Regions from separate parts of the Homo sapiens genome. Here regions 1, 3 and 4 are each linked to region 2. Evidence: fine-mapped expression QTL. A gene starts in region 2. Each other region holds a variant in brackets. All regions are shown on one strand. Distances are between the middles of the regions.

Region 1 (5,204 bases), 210 kb before region 2:
AAACAACAAAATGATAGTGCACTTGCCATGGGTCTAAAATTTAAAGGGGTGCCAAAAACTAATAAGCAAGATAAATACTATTTTAATACAATATTTAAAAGACAAAACCAATGCAAAAATCCACTATAAACAAAATATTAAATTTTAAATGAAGATAAGATAGTATTACTGATTTTTCCTTTTGTCTCAGGTTCTCATATGGCTTGGCATGACACATCTTCATTAAAATTTTTGACATTTTGTTCATCATGGATGCTAAAGGGTAGGCAATACCAACAGAAACTAGTTATCACACACATACTTGTTATGTGTGACATTTACATTTATTTCCCTTAAAAAGTTAGGCGGAGACTGCATTAGTAGAGAGGGAGTAAGAGCAATAGGCACAAACAAGCTTATTGGGATCTTTCAATCTAACTCAGCTTCCATGGACTTCCAGTGACTGTTGGCAAGATTTCTCCTATTGGTCCACACGAGGAGGTCAACATTTCTTCAGGATCTGTGTGTTTCTGCAATCCCCAGAAAACTTAATTCAGTGTTCTCCAGAGAGGTGTATGGCTGGCTGGGCTTTTATGCTAAAAATTTTATAAGAGGACTGGGAATAATAGCAGCCAAAAATTTTGCGTAGATCTTCTCAGAATCTCCCATAGGCTTTCACTCAGATGCAAATAACTTGTTTACATTACTTGCTTTTTAGATTTAAAAAATGTCTCTGCCTTTTCAAATGTTTCTCAAAAATATATTCAAATGAAGGTTTTTTCATATAAACGTGTTTCACATTTAAGAACAACATAGCTGCAATTTTATAAAGTGGGATGAGCACTATCAAATTCACTTTGGGGTGAACTTGGGGTAGGGATCAAACATCCTTTACAACTATATTATCACAAATCTCAAAAATTCCAACACTTTAAAGGCAAGAAGGGAAGAAGGAGCCAGCAAAAGAAGTCACATAGGAAACAGCCAGGTAGGAAGAAAATCAGGAGAGTATGGTATTCTAATAGCCAAATAAAGAAAGTCTTTCAAAAATGAAGGACTTCTCAAATGCTGAGAGAGTAAGATGAAAATGAAAATTTACTATGATGTTTAAGAAGTTTGAGGTCCCTGATAACTTAGTAAGAGCTCTGAGAAGTGGTGTAGAAGAAGCCTGATTGGGATAGGCTCAAAAAGGATTAAAAGTTATCCAAAACAAAGGGGAGAACTGAGAGAAGGCAAAGAAAGGCAATGTTGGAGTTCAAGACACTCACCCTAAAATATGACGGCAGGAGACCAGAATATGCCACCCCAATATATACCTCTTTGGCATATTGATTATTTTGAGCTGGTTATTTTGAGAAACTGCAGACACAGGAGAAGCTCTGAAAAGTTGCCCTTTTGTAAAGGAAATTTATATTTATAAAGGAAATTTTCATTAGTAAAAGTATCTGTACCAATAAGAGAGCTGCTCTGAAATCATTTTATTATCAACAGACTTATATCTGTTTAATAAGACAACCTTTATTCACCACACATTTTCTTCCCTCTTCTTACCACAATTTGTCTCTGCCCCCGCACACCCCTATTCCTTTCTATAGCTCAGGAAACTATACAAGCTTCAATCATCTGGCCTTTTCCTTGAGTTTCAAATTTTTGTGGGACTCCCATGTGCACATAGGTAATTAAAATTATTTTTCTCCTGTTAATCTGTCTTATGTCAATTTAATTTGTAGACTAGCCAAAGAACCTAGAAGGGTAGACCAATAAAACCTTTTGATCCTCTAGAGCAGTACAGACCACTCTTTGGAGGAATGCTGCTTAAAAGAAAGTGAAGACATGGAGCATAAACTGGAGCAGTATATAGGGCCTAGAAAAGTTTTAAAATGTCAGAATGGATCATCTTCTGATTTTAGAATCACTTTATCTATATCTTTTCTTAAGAAAGCTAACGCAATTCTTTTCTTTAAATTCTATTTTGAGAGGATTGTAGATTCACATGGGTTTGTAAGAAATACAGAGAGATCCTATATACCCTTAGCCCATTTCCCCTAATAGTAACATCTTGCATAACTATACTATACTATCACAACAAGGAAACTGACACTGATAAAATCTGTGACCTCATTCAGATTTCATTC[G/A]TTTTACATGAACTTATTTGTATATTTAGTTCTATATTTAGTTTACATGAACTTATTTGTATATTTTGTTAATTTTATCACATGTGCAGACATATCACCACCACCATAGTCAAGATACAGAAAAGTAAATATACAAGAAGAGTTTTGTGTTACCTTTTAAAGTGGGAGCCACTTCTCTGCCTCCTTCACCCCTGGAAACCACTGATTTTTCTCCATCCCTTTAATTTTGTCATTTGAATGTGATCTTCAAATGGAATCATACAGTATATAACCTTTTGAGACTGGCTTTATTCACTCAAAGTAACTCCCATGAGGTCCATCCAAATAGCAGCATGTTTCAATAGTTCATTCATTTTTATTGCTGGGTAATATTCCACAGTATGGATGAATACAGTTTATTTAATCATTAAACCTCTTAAAGGACATTTGGGTTGTTTCTAGATTTGGGCTATTACAAATAAAACAGCTATGAAAATTAATGTGAAGTTTTTCTCTATATGAACATTGTCTTCTTTTCTGTGGAATAAATGCCCAGGAGTACAATTTCTGGGGTGTATGGTAAGTATATAATGTGCCACATAATGACAATTCAGTCAACAACGGACCTCATATATGACAGTGGCCCCATAAGATTATAATGGAGCTGAAAATTTCCTATCACCTAGTGACTTCGTAGCCGTAATATTGTAGCACAATACATTACTCGTATGTTTATGGTGACACTTCTGTAAACAAACCTGTACAGCCAATCATATAAAAGTATAGCACATACAACTACAGATAATACATAATACCTGAGGATGACAATAAACAACTGTTACTGGTTTATATATTTACTACACTACACTTTTTATTGTTATTTTAGAGTATATACATTCTATTATATATTTAAAAAATTAAATGTAAAACAGCCTCAGGTAGTCCTTCAGGAGGTATTCTAGAAGGCATTGTTTTCATAGGAGATGACCGCTCCATGCATGTTATCCCTGCAGACACTGCAGTGGGACAAGATGTGAAGGTAGAAGACAGTGATATGAACGATCCTGACCCTGTGTAAGCCTAGGCTAATGTGTGTGCTTGTTTCTTAGTTTCTAACAAAAAAGTTAAAAAAAAATTAAAATAGAAAACAGCTTAGAGAATAAGGTTATAAAGAAAGAAAATATTTTTGTACAGCTGTACAATGTAGTTGTGCTTACACTAAGTGTTATCACAAGAGTCAAAAAGTTACAATAAGCTGGAGTTAATTTATTATTGAAGAAAATTTTTTTATGAATTTGGTGCAATCTAAGTGAACAGTGTTTATAAAGTCTTCAGTAGTGTACATAATGTCCTAGGCCTTCCCATTCACTTACCACTCACTCACTGACTCACCCAGAGCAACTTCCAGTCCTGCAAGCTCCATTCATGGTAAATGCCCTATACAGGTGTACCATGTTTTATCTTTTATATTGTTATTTTTACCGTACTTTTCCTATGTTTGGATATATTTAGATACAGAAATACCTACCATTGTTCTGCAATTGCCTACAGTATTCAGTACAGTAACATGCTGTACAGGCTTGCAGCCGAAGAGTAACAGGTCATACCATATAGCCCAGGTGTGTAGTAGGCTATGCCATCTAGGTTTGTGTAAGTTCACTCTATGATATTCACACAGTGATAAAATTGCCTAACAACGCATTTCTCAGAACGTATGCTCATCATTAAGTGAGATATGACTGTATTTAGTTTTTTAAGTAACTGCCAGACTTACTTGGAGTGGCTATACAATTTTATGTTTCCACCAGGAACATATGAGTGACTCAATTTGTCTGCCAGCATTTACTGTTCTTGCTATTTTTTAACTTAGCCATACCGATAGATGAGTAGTATTAGTTTTAATTTGCATTTTCCTAAAGGTTAATGCAGTTGAACATCTTCTCATGTACTTATTTGCTATCTGTATATTCTCTTCAGTGACATATCTACACATGTATTTCGTCCATTTTCTAATTGGATTGTTTGGTTTGTATTTGTTTTTGTTTTCATTTTACTGTTGAGTTTTGAAAGTTTATATATCCTAGACACAAGTCTTTTGCCAGACATGTGTTTTACAAATATTGTCTCCCAGTCTGACACTTGTCTTTTCATTCTCCTCATAGGGTCTTAGAGCAAAAGCTTTTCAGAATGAATTCCCTGGAATTTTCTCCTTCCCCCATCTCTGCTTGGTAAAATGGTATTTTTCCTTCGAGGCTCAACCCAAACACAACTTTGAGCACACAAATTTTTTTTCTTTTTTTTCCCACACAACAGGAAGTGACCTTTTCCTCCACTGAGGTTCCATTACACTTATTTTTCTCTGGAAGGCTCTTGCCACAAATGGCCTTATTCTGTAGTTATCTGTAAACATCCCATGTCTCCTTCACTAGCTGGAACATCTTTTAGGTATGACTACATCTTATTCATTTGCATTTCCCAAGCACTCAGAAGAAGGCCTGGAATACAGCAAATGCTCAAGGAATGTTAAATAAATTGCTAAGGTAGTACATAGAGTGAAGTGGTAAGCACGGTTTGCAATGGGGCCATATGTGAATCATGTGTGAAGACTATATCTAGTGTGTCTGATTTGTAACCCTGTCATTGAAAACATGGAGATGCAGAGGTGCGGTTTGTGAGATGTGGTTCATTTGTGTAGTACATGCATATATGCCATATGAACACAGGAACAACTCCCCAGGGCTTGCTGTCTCTACAACCTCAGGCCAGGCTGGTTCTCTTGCATGGCATTGAACTTATACCCTCCTCCCCTCACCCCAGTTCCCTGCTTTCTTACCTTAAGTGTATATCAGTCTCCAATCCATGGGCTCCATGTTCAACAGCTTTCTCAAAGGACATCATGGTATTCTCAGGCCCCAACTGTAGAAGAAAAGGACATCAGGCCCTAAGCCTCAGAGTCTCTCCTCCCAGCATTCCTTTTGTGGTAGGGGTAGAGCCCAGTAGGATTTTGGGGAGCAGAGCTTGGCTCCCTGAGATCTCCTTTCAAAACCTGTATACCCTCCGTCCAAGCTGATTCTGGGACTCTGCTCATCTGAGACAATGTCACTGGGCACA
Region 2 (5,000 bases):
TACTACCTGTACAACTGGAGTCCCCCAGAGATTAGGGCAGACCTTCATTGTTTACTTGTCTACCTCACCCATTAGACTTTGAGCTCTTTGAAGACAGGGAATATCTTAATAGACTGAATCCCCATAGCCTTAGCAAGAGGCCTGAAACATAGTAGCTCTCCGAACTCCAGTAATGTTGGATAAACGAATTGACTGAATAAGCAAATTTACCAAGGTAGACCCATGAGCTCATGTAGTTAAAGAGTATGGATAAGCTTCAGGGAAAGTATGGGAAGTTTTCAGGGTCAATGTTCCCAAAACCCTTTTTGAAAGGCATAGTTTCTAGTTGAGGTGGGGAGTTTTTATATGCACCTGACTTAGAATTTTCCAAATAGGAACCAAAATGTTGTAAGTGCTGTGGTAGAAATCCCACCGGGCCAATGGGAAGAAATCAGCTCTGTCTGTAAGAGGAGAGACAGGATGGAGGCCAGCAAAGACTTCACAGTGTGGGAATTCTTCAGTGGACTCTTGAAAGCTGAGTCCGGTGCTTGCTACTTGCCCGTTTTGGGGCATAAAACCAAACTTCTGGAGCTTTTAAGGCTGGAAGTGACCTGCTCAAGGTCACACAAGAAGTAGATGAAGCCACAGGGTAAGAGAGATGAGGTATCTGTACTGATAATTCCTACTTTCTCCTGACAGAGTTGAAAGAGAACCCAAAAATGTAGGAGGCAAAATTAAAGATTGTTCTCAGGAACAATTCTTAAAGTCAAGACTAATGAATCTGAATTTTTATTAGTAACCACGGAACTAACCCTTCCCTTCACTGTTCACAGTTTTTGTAACAGTAGAACAATTATCCAAGGGGTTTAAAAACCAAGGACGTTGCTCACAACGCCACACCCACTACTTCTCAAGTATTCTTCCAAAACACTCCCAGTAATGTGTACTGCTGAAATAGGATAGCGAAGGCTACAACAATCATGTCTTTTCAAACGTAATAATGAACATAAAATAACTATAAATCTCCTTCCCCGGTTGTTTTTCACTTCCCAAGTTACAGAATATTCCGGGGTGGGGGAGGGGCTGCGTAAGTCAAGTCCTACCAGCCCTTATTTTTCAGGGAGTAGAACCCTAAAGGTGACTGTCCAAGCCTGGAAGGGGTCATTTATTCCATGCAGAAGGAACTGGGCGCCGCTTTGCTGTGCCTCCTCGTAGCGGGACAGGGTGAGCGCCGCAGGACTGCGAAGTTCGGGACGGACTCGGTCCCGGACCGGTACTCGTGTGGCCTCCCGGCTCCAGCCTGGCCTGGCCCCGCCCCGCCCCTTCCCTCTCCCAGGTCTCTCGAATCGCCCGGCGTCTGAGACCCGCGACCCCGCCGGTACGCGCACAGGGGGCCTTTGTTGGCCCGACGGGAGCGGGCCTCGCGGGGCGCCGCCCGCCTCACCTTACCTGGCGCCTCCTCCCGCCCAGGCGCCCGGCCCCGCAACGCGAAATAAATGGGCCCAGACCCCCACTCCACCCGTCCCCACCCCCGCGCCCCAGCCCTGGCAGCCCGGGACGCGAGGGGTACTGGGCGGTAGGCCCGCTCTCACCTTCCGCGCTCGCTCAGCTCCTCTCGGCTCCTCCTCCTCCTCCCGGCGGTGGGTGCCGCCTAGCCGGGAGTGAGGGCGCGAGTGTGCGCGAGCTACCGCTTCACTTTCTCCCTCCTGCCGCCGCCGCCGCGCTGCCCGTGGCGGGGCTCCCCTCAGGACAGGGGAACTGCGAGGGAAGGGATGATGGGGGGGCGGGAGGGAGCGAGGCGACGCGGGCGGGGGGGGAAGGGGGGACTGAGGGGCGAGGTGCGAAGGGCTCAGATGGCCTCTGAGGCAGGAGGTGGTAACTGGATGCGGAGACCAGGTTCCTCGAGGGGGCTCACGAAAGCGCGGGGCTCCGTGGAAAAGGGAATGAGAGTCCAAGGGGGAAGGCGTCTGTGGGGGAGGACTGCAGAGCCTGTGAGGGAAGCGCGATGGGCGAGCGAGGGGGCGGGAGCGTGTGGGGGAAGCCGTGAGGGGGCGTCTACTGTGCAGCCACCACCTTCGGCTCCGGCTGCAGCCGCGGGAGGGCAGCCTCCCCCGCCCACAGCCGCGCTATTGTACGCCGCCCGGCAGGCCTGACCGCCTAGTTCACTGGCTCCCCTACTCCTCCTCCTCCCGCCTCCTCCTCCCCTCTGCCCTTTCCCCTTCTCCCCCTCCCCCTCCCCCACTCCCCCTCCCCGGCGCGGCGGCGGCGGCTGCGGCTCCGGTGGAGCCGTGCCCGCCCCGCCTCCCGCAGGTGAGAGGGGGCGGGGAGGGCCTGACCGACCCGTGGGAGCGAGGCCAAACCCTGGCCCGCATGAGGGCGAACGCCTGGGATTACGTCATCGGCGCGTGACGCCAGAGGCTGGGGAATCACCCGCTTGCTGCGTGACGTCATCGCGTCGCGTCACTGTTCTCGGTCCGCTGTCCGTGGCGGGTTGTTTCCGTGCAGCCTTTCTATCAGACAATTTTGGGACGATTTCTGGGAGGGCTACTGTAGTAGTCAGGATGGAGAAAGACGGCTAACTTCCGGCGCTGAGGGTCCTTTTCAGGTTAACAAAGCACCACCGCATCTATGAGCTCGTTGTCAAGGGCTGAATTTGAAAACTATCCGATGTCGTGTGATCTCACAGCCAGACATGTATTATGTTTTCTTTCTGTGGGAGAGGGGGCAGGGGTGGGAGGAAGACAAAGAAATTATAACGGAGATGTTTGAACTAATGTGAACTGACATACGAAAAGAATGGGCTTCCTTTCACGTTTTTTCCCCTACCGTGGAGGGTACTTTCGACCCAAAGCTTTCTTTCTCCTGAGCTCAGATTGTGTATTTCCCAATACCTCCCGAGCAGCATTACCTGCATACTCTTCGTACCTCAGATTCAACATGTGCGAAACTGAGACAGCATTAGAAAGGCTAAGAGTCCGGAATCAGGTTGCCTTGCTTGAAATCCTAGCTATTCAAATATTAGTGATAGGACCTTGACATTTCTAAGCCGTAATTTTTCTGTAATAATAAGTAGTACCTTAACTAGGTCTTCCTAAGCCTCAGTTTTACCATGGTAATAGTAACAAGCCCTTTAGAATGTTGGCTATTATTATTATTTCCCCCCCAAAATTGCTTCTTACGTTCCTTTCCGTTCTCAATGAATGGGCCACCCATTCAACAATCCCCTAAGCCAGGAACCTAGACATACTAATAGCTCCCCGTTCTTCCTCTCTCAACATCCATATCAAGTTGGACACCAAGTCTTGTAGCTTCTCCTAAATATTTTTCAAGTCCTTGCCTGTGTCGTCTTCTACTACCACCACCTGAACAACTGGAGCAACCTTTAGTCTCTTCAAACTCAATCTATTTTTCTCACTAGTTACCTGAGTAGCCTTATAAAAGCACAAATCTGATGATGTCCTCCCGTTTAAACACCGAAAGGATTTTATTGCTTTCAGGATAAAGTTCAAACTCCTGAACTTGGCACTTTATTACCTGACTGCTTACACTAGCCTTTCTAGCTTTGTCTCACATCATTTATTTTTTGCTCCAAGCACACTGAAATATTAACGTTATTTGAATACACATTTCTTCATGTCTTCAAGCTCTTCCCTACTTAGCTGACTGGCCAACACCTATTCATTGTACAAAGCTGAGCTCAAATGTCATTCATATTCATATTCATATTCATTTGACTAATATTTCTAAAGTTTCCCTAAGCCTTAACAAAACTGTAATTCTATAGTATTTCTATGCCTTTTATGGAAGTAACTGCATTTGTGTATCTAATTTCTTGAGTTCCAAGTCATATTCCTTTCCATATCCTCAGCACCTAAAACAGTGCTTGACATATACCTAAGTATCAATATGTTGTTAAAATATATTTAATAAGGCCAGGCGCGGTGGCTCACGCCTGTAATCCCAGCACTTGGGAGGCCAAGGCAGCCAGATCACCTGAGGTCAGAAGTTTGAGACCAGCCTGGCCAATATGGCGAAACCCCATCTCTACTAAAATACAAAAATTAGCCGGGCGTAGTGGCAGGCACCTGTAATCCCAGCTACTCAGGAGGCTGAGGCAGGAGAATTGCTTAAACCCAGGAGGCGGTGGTTGTAGGAAGCTGTGATTGCACCACCACACTCCAGCCTGGGTGACAAGAGCAAAACTCTGTCTCAAAAAAAATGTATTTAATAAATGTTCCTATTGTTCTTTCTATGTGCCAGGTACTGTTCTGAGCACTTTACAAACACTGTCTTTAAACCTCTACCCTCTACGGTAGATACTGTTGTTATCCTCACCCATCTTATTGATGCGGGAACTGAGGCACAGAGGGGTTAAGTAACTTAACCCAGGATCCTAACCCAGTAAATTGACTCTAATCTGGATTGTCTTTTCGTGATCTCTGCACTAGGCAGAATAATGGCTCATCCAATGGAATGTTCACATTCCAATCCCTGGGAACTATGAATATGTTACCTTCCATGACAAAAGGACTCTGCAGATGTGAGTAAATTGAGGATTTGGGGAAAGGGACTCTCCAGCTTTTGGGAGCAGACTGGAAAATGGAAAAGGCAAGAAAATGGATCCTCCCTTGGAGCCTCTGGAAAGGAAGAGATGGTATCCTGATGATACCTTAATTTTAGCCCACTGACATCCATTTAGGACTTCTGAACTACAGAACTGTGAAATAATAAATGTGTATTGTTGGCCAGGCACAGTGGCTCACATCTGTAATCCCAGCACTTTGGGAGGCCGAGGCGGGTGTATCACCTGAGGTCAGGAGTTCAAGAGCAGCCTGGCCAACATGGTGAAACCCCATCTCTACTAAAAATACAAAATTAGCTGGGCGTGGTGGCACATGCTTGTAATCCCAGCTACTCGGGAGCTGAGGCAGGAGAATCGGTTGAATCCAGGAGGTAAAGATGCTGTGAGCCGAGATTGCGCCATTGCACTTAAGCCTAGAGACAAGAGTGAAACTCCATCT
Region 3 (5,204 bases), 25 kb after region 2:
AGTTCAAGACCAGCCTGGTCAACACAGTGAAACCCTGGCTCTACAAAAAATACAAAAAAATTTGCCAGCGTGGTGGTGCACGCTTGTAGTCCCAGCTACCCAAGAGGCTGAGGTGGGAGGATTGTTTGAGCCTGGGAGGTAGAGGTTGCAGTGAGCCACTGCTCTCCAGCCTGGATAACAGAGCAAGAACCTGAAAAAAGAAAGAAAAGAAAAAGAAATAAAAATAAAAACTCAGGCTGAGCTCAGTGGCTCATGCCTATAATCCCAGCACTGTGGGAGGTCAAGCCAGGCAGATCACTTGAGGTCAGGAGTTTGAGACCAGCCTGGCCAATATGGCAAAACGCTGTCTCTACTGAAAATACAAAAATTAGCCTGGCGTGATGGTGAGTGCACATAATCACAGCTACTCAGGAGGCTGAGGTAGGAGAATTGTTTGAACCTGGGAGGTGGAGTTTGCAGTGAACCTAGATCATGCCATTGCACTCCAGCCTGGGCAACAGACTATGTCTCCAAAAAAAATAAAAATAAAAATAAAAAAACTGAAATGGGTGATTTGAACCCAGAACCAGTCTCAGTAGCCTCCTTTGAACTGAGGAGACTCTTCACTAGGCAGGGCTCTGGTGAAGGTCCATACTCACTCCTGAATCTGCAAGGTCAATGGAGCTTATCTAGCCTGAATCTGTCCCACTGTATAGAGGAGCAGGACAGGGTGTGGGAAGCCTTCAGGAACTGGGCGAACATCTCCAAGTCCAGGAAGGGGAAGGTGTGCCCAGGTCCTTATCTCCCCATGGAGATGAGTCTGTGGGATGGCTATGGTGGTAGGCACTAGAGGTATGGAGATGAATAAAATATAATTATTGCCCTCAAAAGGTTGACCAATGACAATTCACATCTGAAATAATAATTTTTACATTCATCTGTATAGCCCCTAACAATTTATAAAACACTTTCTTCTTCTCACTTGATTCTCCCAAAAGCCATATGGGGAAGCCCCATTTTACAGATGAGGAAACTGAGACCCAGAAGGAAAGTGACTCACTTAGAAGGAAAGTGACTCACTCAAAGTGCACATACCAACTGCCTTTTACCAACTGCTTTCACAGCCATTAATTCATTTACAAGGGGCACAGCCTGGCTTAGGAGAGGGACATGGGGACAGCATTGCTGGGCTCTGAGATCGTGTGTGTGGTGTATTTCTATCAAGTGATGAATTCTGTTCAGCTGCTTGAGCCAAGAATTCCATCCAACTCAGCAGCATGTAGGGAGTCAGTTCTATTCCAAAGGGCAAAGCTGTTCAGTACATCACTATGGAAGGAACAAAAGGATCTCTCTCTTGCTGTGTCCTCTGATTCCTACTGTCTTAGTTTCCTTTGCATTTTCTGACTTTGAGATATAGTGCTCACAATGCTGTATGCAAGTGTTTTTTGTTTTTCACTAGAATATTAATCTTCACAATGGCAAGAATATTTAATTTTTAGGTGTCTTCTAAGACTGTTTCTTTTTTAAAAAACTGCTACCTTCAGTAAAAAATACATCCTACATATGTAGTAGAAACAACTTTTCATAAAATAATACTTAACCTTAGTCTGTGCAAGTATTTTCTATTCTATTTTATATTATTTCATTTTTTAAAAAATTCTAATCTTCTAAATGTAATGTGGTATTCTGGAAACGTAGAACAGAAAAAGGACACTAGTGGAAAAACAGGTGAAACCCAAATAAAATCTATAGTTTAGTTAATAATATTACATTAATGTTAATTTCTTACTTTAACAAATGTACCATGGTTATGTAATATGTTAACATTAGGGGGAGCTGGGTGAAAAACATGTGGAAACTTTCTGAACTATCGTTCTATGCTTTTGGTAAATCTAAAATTATTCCAAAAGGAAAAGTTTATTTAAAAACAAAACAAAAATTTCCAGTCTTGACCATTTAAACTGATATCATGACCCACTCATGGGTCAGAATTCACACTTCCAGTGTGATGTCTGCTGTCTTTTTGGATAATGCTGACAGGAATCATTGCAGTGATTTATAAAAGCTCATTATTGCTCTTTCTCCGACACACACACACACACATGGTGCCACGGCCCACCTCTCACAGTCCTTGGCCTCTCTGCCTTGTCTTACATTCATTTTTTATCTATATGGCCTGCCTTTGAAGGGCTCTCCCTGCCTGTATCATCTGAGCAACCTCAAAAGAATACATGGTACATATTTGTTAAATGAATGCCCGAAGAAATAATTGTATTTTTAACACCCTTGCTTGTAATTTTTTTTTTTTTTTTTTTTTTTTTTTTGAGACAGAGTCTTGCTCTGTCACTAGGCTGGAATGCAATGGCAAGATCTCAGCTCACTGCAACCTCCGCCTCCCATGTTCAAGCATTTCTCCTGCCTCAGCCTCCTAAGTAGCTGGAACTACAGGCACACGCCACCATGCCAAGCTAATTTTTGTATTTTTAGTGGAGACTGGGTTTCACCATGTTGGACAGGGTGGTCTCGAACTCCTGACCTTGTGATCCACCCGCCTTGGCCTCCCAAAGTGCTGGGATTACAGGCATGAGCCACCACGCCCTGCCAAATTTTATTCCCTCTTCAAACTGCAAGAAATTTTTTTTATACATAGAAGTCTAATATAAAGCCTTCTATTAAATTTACCAAACTTGGCAGAAGGTCTTTAACTTTTCATATTAATGAGTGATACCCACTCACTACTAAAAAAAAAAAAAGAGAAGGATAATTTTTAAAGGGAGGAAAATAAAATTTCAAAAATTCACTTATAATCCTACCAGGAATATCTATTGTTAACATTTTTTTTCTTTGTGTTGAGATGGGGTCTCATTATGTTACCCAGTCTGGTCTTGAACTCCTGGGCTCAAGCA[A/G]TCCTCGCAGTTTGGCCTCCTGAATACCTGGGACTACAGGTGCATGCCACCACACCTGGCTTATTGCTAACATTTTGGTGCATAGTCTCTTCCACATGTATACATGTAAATAAATATATTTTTCAGACAAATGTTCCTACTATTCATACAGTTTTAGAGATGTCTTCACTCAAGCTGTTCCCTCATCCTGGAATGCATTTCCTCCTTTTTATCCTTCACTGTATAGTTCCTACTCATCCTTCTAGATCCAACCCATGATCCCACCTCTGGGAAGTCTTTCATGCCCACTCTGCCCTTCTCAACTTTAGAGGAAGTAGGTACTGCCTCTTAAGTATTCCAGTGATACTTTCGTTATACCTTTATTACACTTTTTGTCTTAATTAGTTGTTTACATGCCTGTCTGTCCCAACAGTCAGGGAATGTTAATTTAGAGTTGATGTGGGCCCTGGATCCATATTGCTCCCTAAGCACTGAGTTGGTTTGTGCTGACACTGCACACACACACACACATACACACACAGAGCAGTAGACTTTCCGGCATTTTGGCTTCTACAGAACAGAATGGATACAGCCTGGCTAAATGTCTCACCCTTTTGACCTTCTCTAGCACTCACCTGATAAATCCACCATCCAGCATCAGCGAACACTTCCATCTCTGCTTCTACACCTGGCTCTGAAAGTGGCTGGAAGACCTCTGAACACACGCATCTGAGATAAGCAAGCCCTGACCATAAGTGAGTGGAAGAAGTTTGCTCCCTTGGAAAATTTTGTTATAATCAGTTCATAAAAATGAAAATTCACAAACACAGAATTTGTATAGCAAAGATGAATATACATAACTCAGATTCAACTGAGAGCCCTCCTGCCCTTAAAGATCAAAATATAAACCGGGTGCGGTGGCTCACGCCTGTAATCCCAGCACTTTGGGAGGCCGAGGTGGGCGGATCACAAGGTCAGGAGTTCGAGACCAGCCTGGTTAACATGGTGAAATCCCGTCTCTACTAAAAATACAAAAATTAGCCAGGCATGGTGGTGCATGCCTGCAGTCCCAGCTACTCAGGAGGCTGAGGCAGGAGAATTGCTGGAACCCAGGCAGCGAAGGTTGCAGTGAGCCGAGATTGTGCCACTGCACCCCAGCCTGGGCAACAGAGTGAGACTCCACCTCAAAAAAAGAAAAAAAAGTCGAAACATAATTAACTGGATTCCTCCCTCCAATTCCACGTCTTGTGGAAATCCAAAGCCCTCCTCAAGATTTCCGTTCTGGCTGGGTTCAGTGGCTCACACCTGTAATCTCAGCACTTTGGGAAGCCGAGGCAGGAGGATCATTTGAGCCCCAGAGTTCAGGATCAGCCTGGGCAACACACTGAGACTTGTCTCCACACACACAAAAAAATTAGCTGGGTGTGATGATGCATGCCTGTGGTCCCAGCTATTCAGGAGGCTGAGGCAGGAGGATTGCTTGAGCTTGGGAGGTTGAGGCAGCAATGTGCTGTGTTCACACCACTGCACTCCAGTCTAGGAGACAGAGTGAGACACTGTTTCAAAAAAAAAATTCAGTTCTTTCCCAACAGACTTCTCTTACCACAGCCAGCTAGCCTCTGGGCTCCTGGCTCCCCACATGGTCCTCTGTTCTGCAGTGTGCAGATCCACATTCAAAACTTAGTCCCTCCAATTTCCACCAAAAACCCAATCCCGGGTAATTAGCCGGGCGTGGTGGCAGGCGCCTGTAGTCCCAGCTACTTGGAAGGCTGAGGCAGGAGAATCGCTTGAACCCAGGAGGCGGAGGTTGCAGTGAGCTAAGATCCCACCACTGCACTCCAGCCTGGGTGACAGAGCGAGACTCCGTCTCAAAAAAAAAAACAAAAAACAAAAAACAAAAAACAACCCACTCCCATAGAGCAGTTTTGAAGTTAGTAGAATTTGCTGGCAATGTGGAGGATGAAGGGGAAATCCAGGAGAGTTTCACATCCATAGCAAAGCAAACAATTCAAAATGGAAGGACCACTATCTGCCAGAGGGGAGCTTCCCCGGCCCTTCACTCCACCCGGACTCAGTCTCTCCACTGACTCCTCTCTTCTTCATCCTTCTCTCTTCTCTCTACTCCCTGTGGTGGCATCTTTTCTCTGTGCCTGCTGAGCATTCACTGAATTCGACCCCTCTTCTCGGGTAATAAGCAACAGCTTTCCCTTGGGGAACCACCCTTACCCCTTCTCTCAAATGGCTTGAGCAGGGCTGATCCCACCCTGTTCCAGTGATCCATACAAGTGACCAGTCAGTGCATCCCACCTCTCTGGTCACACTGATGCTCAGGGACAGGCT
Region 4 (5,204 bases), 23 kb before region 2:
ACTGAAGGAAGAAATACTAATTCTGCCTGGCACAGGAGGACAATGTCAGAGAAGGCATCAGAGACAGATATTTGAACTTGGTCTTGAAGGTTGTTGAGTGTAAGGACAGCAAGCAAAGGAAAACATGTTAAACAAACAAAATGCTATGAGACCCAAGTTAAGGGAACATGAGAAAGAATGTTTGGCTTATTTCAGCAATAGTGTGAAAACTTACAAAGAAGTGATAGGTTATACAGAACCAGAAATAAGATTAGCATGAGGAAGGGACTACCCATGGGAAGTTTTTTGTGGAAAGCAAAGTGGTATAATAGGCAAAAAGAGGTAGTCATTTGAGAAACTCTTGAAACTATTTAGCTGGAGAAGAACAGTAATAAAATCACTATTGTGATTATAAAGAATTGTCATGTGGAGGAAAGGTTGAATTCATTTTGTCTGACCCAAGGGACAGATTTAAGAAGGTGGATAGAAATTAAAAAATGATATTATACAAAAATGGCTAAGGAATATTAATGATATACAGGGTGAGTGTTTGAAATTTAAAAGAAAATGTCCCTCCTGTACGTTTTGAAATTAACCCAGAAAGCTCGAAAGAGAAACTCCTTCAATCTTAGCCTGGGCTAAGAACCCCAGGCTTTCTCTTCCTCTTTGGGGACAAGACTTGACTTGATGGGCCTTTGGTGCAACCAGGTTTGAGGAAGGTGCTTCCACCACTTCCTGAGGCCTTACACAATTCAATTCAACCTCAAAAGGGAACACTAGCCCACACAGAAACAGCTTAAAAAGAAAACTAAAGAAGGCAACGACTTTAAAGGAAACTAGGCAGTGCGCTTAAAGAGAAAAGGGCAATGGGAACAACATGAACATCAGAGGCATCAACTATCTGTTCTCATGTTAATGAAGGAAGGAAGAGCAGCAAGACCATTCAGTTCAACATCTCACTGTACACATAGAGAAACTGAAGCCCAGAAAGGGGATAGGGCAGGTAAAGCCAGGCATGAAAACAACTTAACATAAAACGTTAGAGTTCAGGCAGACTCTTTTATCATCTCACTTTTCCTCAAAATAACACAGTGAAGGAGGTGTTATTTTCCCAATGAGACACGAAGATCTTTAAAGCATTACAATGTTTGTGTTAGTTTTCCTTATGGGTTGCTGGAATGAATAATGCTTTCCTTTTCAATCCTATAGGTAAAAAAAAAAAAAAAAAAAAAATCACCCTAAGGACTGGAGCTTCTCCAGGGAAATAATGTGGACTAGGAAACAGTTTCTCAATACCCTCACCCCAATTCCCCTATTCTATCTAGGACTTTCCAATGTATTACATATTCAATTTTTTAAAAATTCTGTTTTAGCCCCTGTGCTGAGAACAGGGAGCAAAAATTCAATCAGACATGCATCTTCAAGGAGCTTCCCATTCTGAAAGCATAGACAAGCATGACAATCAATGATTATCTTTTAGTCATGAAGACTTGGTTTCAAATCCTGGGTCTGCCCTTTACTAGCTAAGGCAAGTCATTTCCTTTCATCTAAACTTCAGACTCCTTTTCTGCGAAATTGAAGGCAATACCCTCAGTCTAACTCAAAGTATTAACTTGTGAGTATTTGGAAAGATAATTATTTAAAGCACCCAGCAGAATGTCTGATCCACAGTATATATGCTCAGAAGGTATTTACTGAATTAATGGCTTACATAAAAGTATCAATTCTAGGGGTAGAGTTGGGAAGAAAGAACATCCCAGCATTATGTTTTCTCATAACCCTGGACCCACTGAGAGAATGATGTTTACCTGATCATGTGGGTTTCATGCTCCCCAACTCTTGTGCATTAAAGCCACAAATACCACCCCAGCATTAAAAACCCGAAAGAACCTGGCAGGTCCCACACAATGACTAGGGATGAAGGAAATAGCTGTCTGGCCTGACCATATTTGCAAAGGGAAGTAGGCAGCAGAGCAAGGCCTAAAAAACCCAAGACCTGAAATCCTGCAAATCCTTATGATTAAAGACTAGAAAATCCTTGTTAAATACAAATATCTCTGCAAGGTGAAGCTGGGGTGAAGAATTAGGAGCCATTAGGGATTTATGGAACTCTATGGGCCACAGAAGTTCTCCACTTTAGATAGATATTATTTCAAAAAAATACATTGGC[A/G]TATCTACTGTGGGTCAGGTGTTGAAACAGCAGAGGACTTAGACATGGTTCCAGTTTTTGAGACACTTAGAATAACAGAGACAGAGATCACAATGAAAAATGGTTTCACCACTAAGGTCCTGACATACTGCTATTCAGTGGGCTGCAACTGCCTGCAGAAGTGACCCAAGTTTCCCAGTTACCAAGTTTCCTCCTCCTCTTTTTCAATCCATTTACCACAAAACCTGCCATCTCTAGAGGCCCTTCTCTGGGCAGAAGAGCTTGCCTATGTGCCACAGGAGTTTAGAATGGAAATCTGACTAACAGCAAAGCTCATACCTTACACCACCTATAGCCTCTGGAATCAAACTCCACAAAACACTTTAAAACCACAGAACAAGAAGTTCTGATGTATTTATTTTAAGACTTTAGGGAAACCATTTGAGAAGACAGAACTAAGTCTTCTGAGAATATCTCAAACATTTACTGACTACCTATTATGTTCCAGCCACCACTTTGATTCTTTATAATGGGGTTCAAGACATGCTACCCCAAAATATGACATCTTAGCATATGAGAAAACAGCAGACGCAAGAAAGTATTCTCACTCTCAGCTTCCCCTCACCCTTCTCCCCTGAAGCAGGTAATCAGATCCTCATTCAAGAGGTACCCTCCTTATTCCCAGAGGAAAGCCTCATTTTTCTCTGAAGACACAGGGACATACAGAAAAATCTGAACAAACCAGCCTTGCTAAGTTCCCTCCAACCCTGATCCTATTACCATTACATCATACCGCCTTTGTCCAATCATATTTCTCCAAGACTACCCACTTCTTCCATCAAACCTAAACATAAAAATACACAAGTTTGCCTGTTTCTTTGCATCCTCATTTCCTTATGAAGGCTCCTATGTCATGTAAAACTTGTATTAAATATATTTGCTTGCTTTTCTCTCGTTAATGTCTTTTGTTTTTTTTTGTTTTTTTTTTGAGACGGCGTCTTGCTCTGTCGCCCAGGCTGGAGTGCAGTGGCACGATTTCTGCTCACTGCAAGCTCCGCCTCCTGGGTTCATGCCATTCTCCTGCCTCAGCCTCCCGAGTAGCTGGGACTACAGGCGCCACCACCACGCCCGGCTAATTTTTTGTATTTTTAGTAGAGACGGGGTTTCACCATTTTGGTCAGGCTGTCTCGAACTCCTGACCTCAGGTGATCCGCCTGCCTCGGCCTCCCAAAGTGCTGGGATTACAGGCGTGAGCCACCACGCCCGACCTCTCTCGTTAATGTCTTTTGCTACAGGAGCCTCAGCCATGAACATAGCAATGGGAAAAATATTTCTTTTCCCCTACATTTATATATATTAATGTCCTCAAAACAACCCTGTAAGAGAGCTATTATTGTCTCAATTTTACAAAGAAAAAACTACGTTCACAGAAATTAAGTGACTTGCCCAAAATCACACAGTTAATAAGTGATGGAGCTAAAAATTCATAAGTAAATTGGCCACGTCCACTTTAAAGTCTTCATTTCATTTTTTCCCCTGCATCTCACATTTCATTCTAATGATAACGCTGTGAGGCAGAGTATCAACATAATTTCATTTTATAAATAGGAAACTGGTGCTTAAGGAAGTGATATTACTTTCTGAGAAACAGGTCAGTAAGTAGCAGAGCCACAGTTTGTACCCAGATCTCATGCCCTCAAATCTGCACTCTTTACACTACCCCACAATTCCTCTTACACTTGCCTTGCAGAGAGGTGTAGTAAAAATATACTTAATAGGGAGTCAGAAGTGCTGAGATGTGGTCTTGACTCTGTAACTAACTTATATAATATTGAATGAGCTGCTTTTCTTCTCTTGGCTTCAGTTTCTCATTCATAAAATAAGGGTGTTGAATTAGACATCTCCTAGGGTCCCCTTCAGCCAGCAACCCAACTAGTCTATGAGAAGCAGTTTCTCTAATTTCCTTGCCACTCAAGCAGTAACTTTCTAAAAGAAAAAAAAAGACTGGTTATTTACAGTATAGACGAAGGTGGAAAATGCTCAGCACCAAAGAGTAGAAATTACCCATTCAAAAGGCATATTTACCTTCCTCAAACACCCTAGATATAAAGAAAGAAGAAGCCATAAGCCACCTAATAACAGGGTTGGCACATCTAATAACAAGCCAAGTAGGAGTAAAGAGTGTGTTCATGGTAGGGCCCTTTTCCCTCTGCTGGATTCCTAACACTTCTATTCACTAGCTTTCTCTCTTCCTAGGTTGGCACATCAGCCCTGCCTCACAGCAAATCAGGCTTATGACTTTAACTAAATCCCATCAGATCTAAACAATCTACAAATGACTTTTTACTAGTATTACAGAACAAAAAAATGAAAGCCCCAGATGTAAATTCATCCATGCCAAGAAATAGGAAGAAGGAAGAAGTGGGATATATAAGATTTTGGAGGCCAGGTGCGGTGGCTCACGCCTGTAATCCCAGCACTTCAGGAGGCCGAGGCAAGCAGATCGCCTGAGGTCAAGAGTTCAAGATCAGCCTGGCCAATATGGCAAAACCCCGTCTCTACTAAAAATACAAAAATTAGCCAGGTGTATGGCGCACGCCTATAGTCCCAGCTACTCAGGAGGCTGAGGCAGAAGAATCGCTTGAACCCAGGCAGCAGAGGTTTCAGTGAGCCGAGATCGCGCCATTGCACTCCAGCCTGGGCGAAAAGAGCAAAACTCAGTCTCAGGAAAAAAAAAAATTTTTTTGGAAAAATTATTTCCCTGTCTGTCCTAGTTTCTTTATATATAAAGCAAAGGAGAGAGTCCAAACTGATTCTAAACACCTTTCCCACTGAAACTTAACATGAACTTGTAAGTATTCTATATTTAGAAAATGTGAGATATATTAAAAAAAAAAAAAACAAGGGGGAAAAGGGCATGGTATTACAAATTTTAATTACCTCACAGGAGAAAATAAAAAGGAATGAATTATAGTGCCAGGGAAGAACATAAAATATGTATGGTCACAGCAAGCTGAATACATATTAGTTATAAGAGCAAAAGGAACTGCACTATCCCTGTAACAGCCAAATAATT

Which allele goes with the higher level. Alleles are on the strand shown, and positions count from the first base shown. SD is a standard deviation of normalised expression in the study named. Not every link is listed here.
In carriers of allele A in region 3, the expression in monocytes after Pam3CSK4 of the gene that starts at base 2,114 in region 2 tends to be lower than with G alone (small effect, 0.34 SD a copy in Quach 2016).

What was found. PIP is the estimated chance that this variant, and not a neighbour inherited with it, causes the effect.
Region 1: its variant is the best candidate, but not a certain one, in a credible set for the expression of PAK1 in whole blood (INTERVAL, PIP 0.62).
Region 3: its variant is the best candidate, but not a certain one, in a credible set for the expression of PAK1 in monocytes after Pam3CSK4 (Quach 2016, PIP 0.85).
Region 4: its variant is the best candidate, but not a certain one, in a credible set for the expression of PAK1 in whole blood (INTERVAL, PIP 0.52).

Annotation. Positions count from the first base shown.
Region 1 is chr11:77,263,531-77,268,734 of GRCh38, forward strand. It overlaps GDPD4 (glycerophosphodiester phosphodiesterase domain containing 4), which reads right to left. Exons shown (of 17, transcript NM_182833.3): 10 at 4,927-5,009. Among named protein-coding and RNA genes, the nearest start is that of GDPD4, 36 kb to the right of the region's middle. The variant G/A (reference allele first, on the strand shown) is at 2,115.
Region 2 is chr11:77,471,981-77,476,980 of GRCh38, forward strand. It overlaps PAK1 (p21 (RAC1) activated kinase 1), which reads right to left and starts at 2,114. Exons shown (of 15, transcript NM_002576.5): 1 at 1,572-2,114. RefSeq lists an enhancer at 1,222-2,138 and silencers at 1,379-1,688, 1,709-1,758, 1,989-2,348.
Region 3 is chr11:77,496,417-77,501,620 of GRCh38, forward strand. It overlaps a transcript of PAK1 not described here. Among named protein-coding and RNA genes, the nearest start is that of PAK1, 25 kb to the left of the region's middle. The variant A/G (reference allele first, on the strand shown) is at 2,886.
Region 4 is chr11:77,448,502-77,453,705 of GRCh38, forward strand. The region is part of intron 1 of PAK1 (p21 (RAC1) activated kinase 1); the gene reads right to left. Among named protein-coding and RNA genes, the nearest start is that of PAK1, 23 kb to the right of the region's middle. RefSeq lists enhancers at 214-984, 564-993. The variant A/G (reference allele first, on the strand shown) is at 2,150.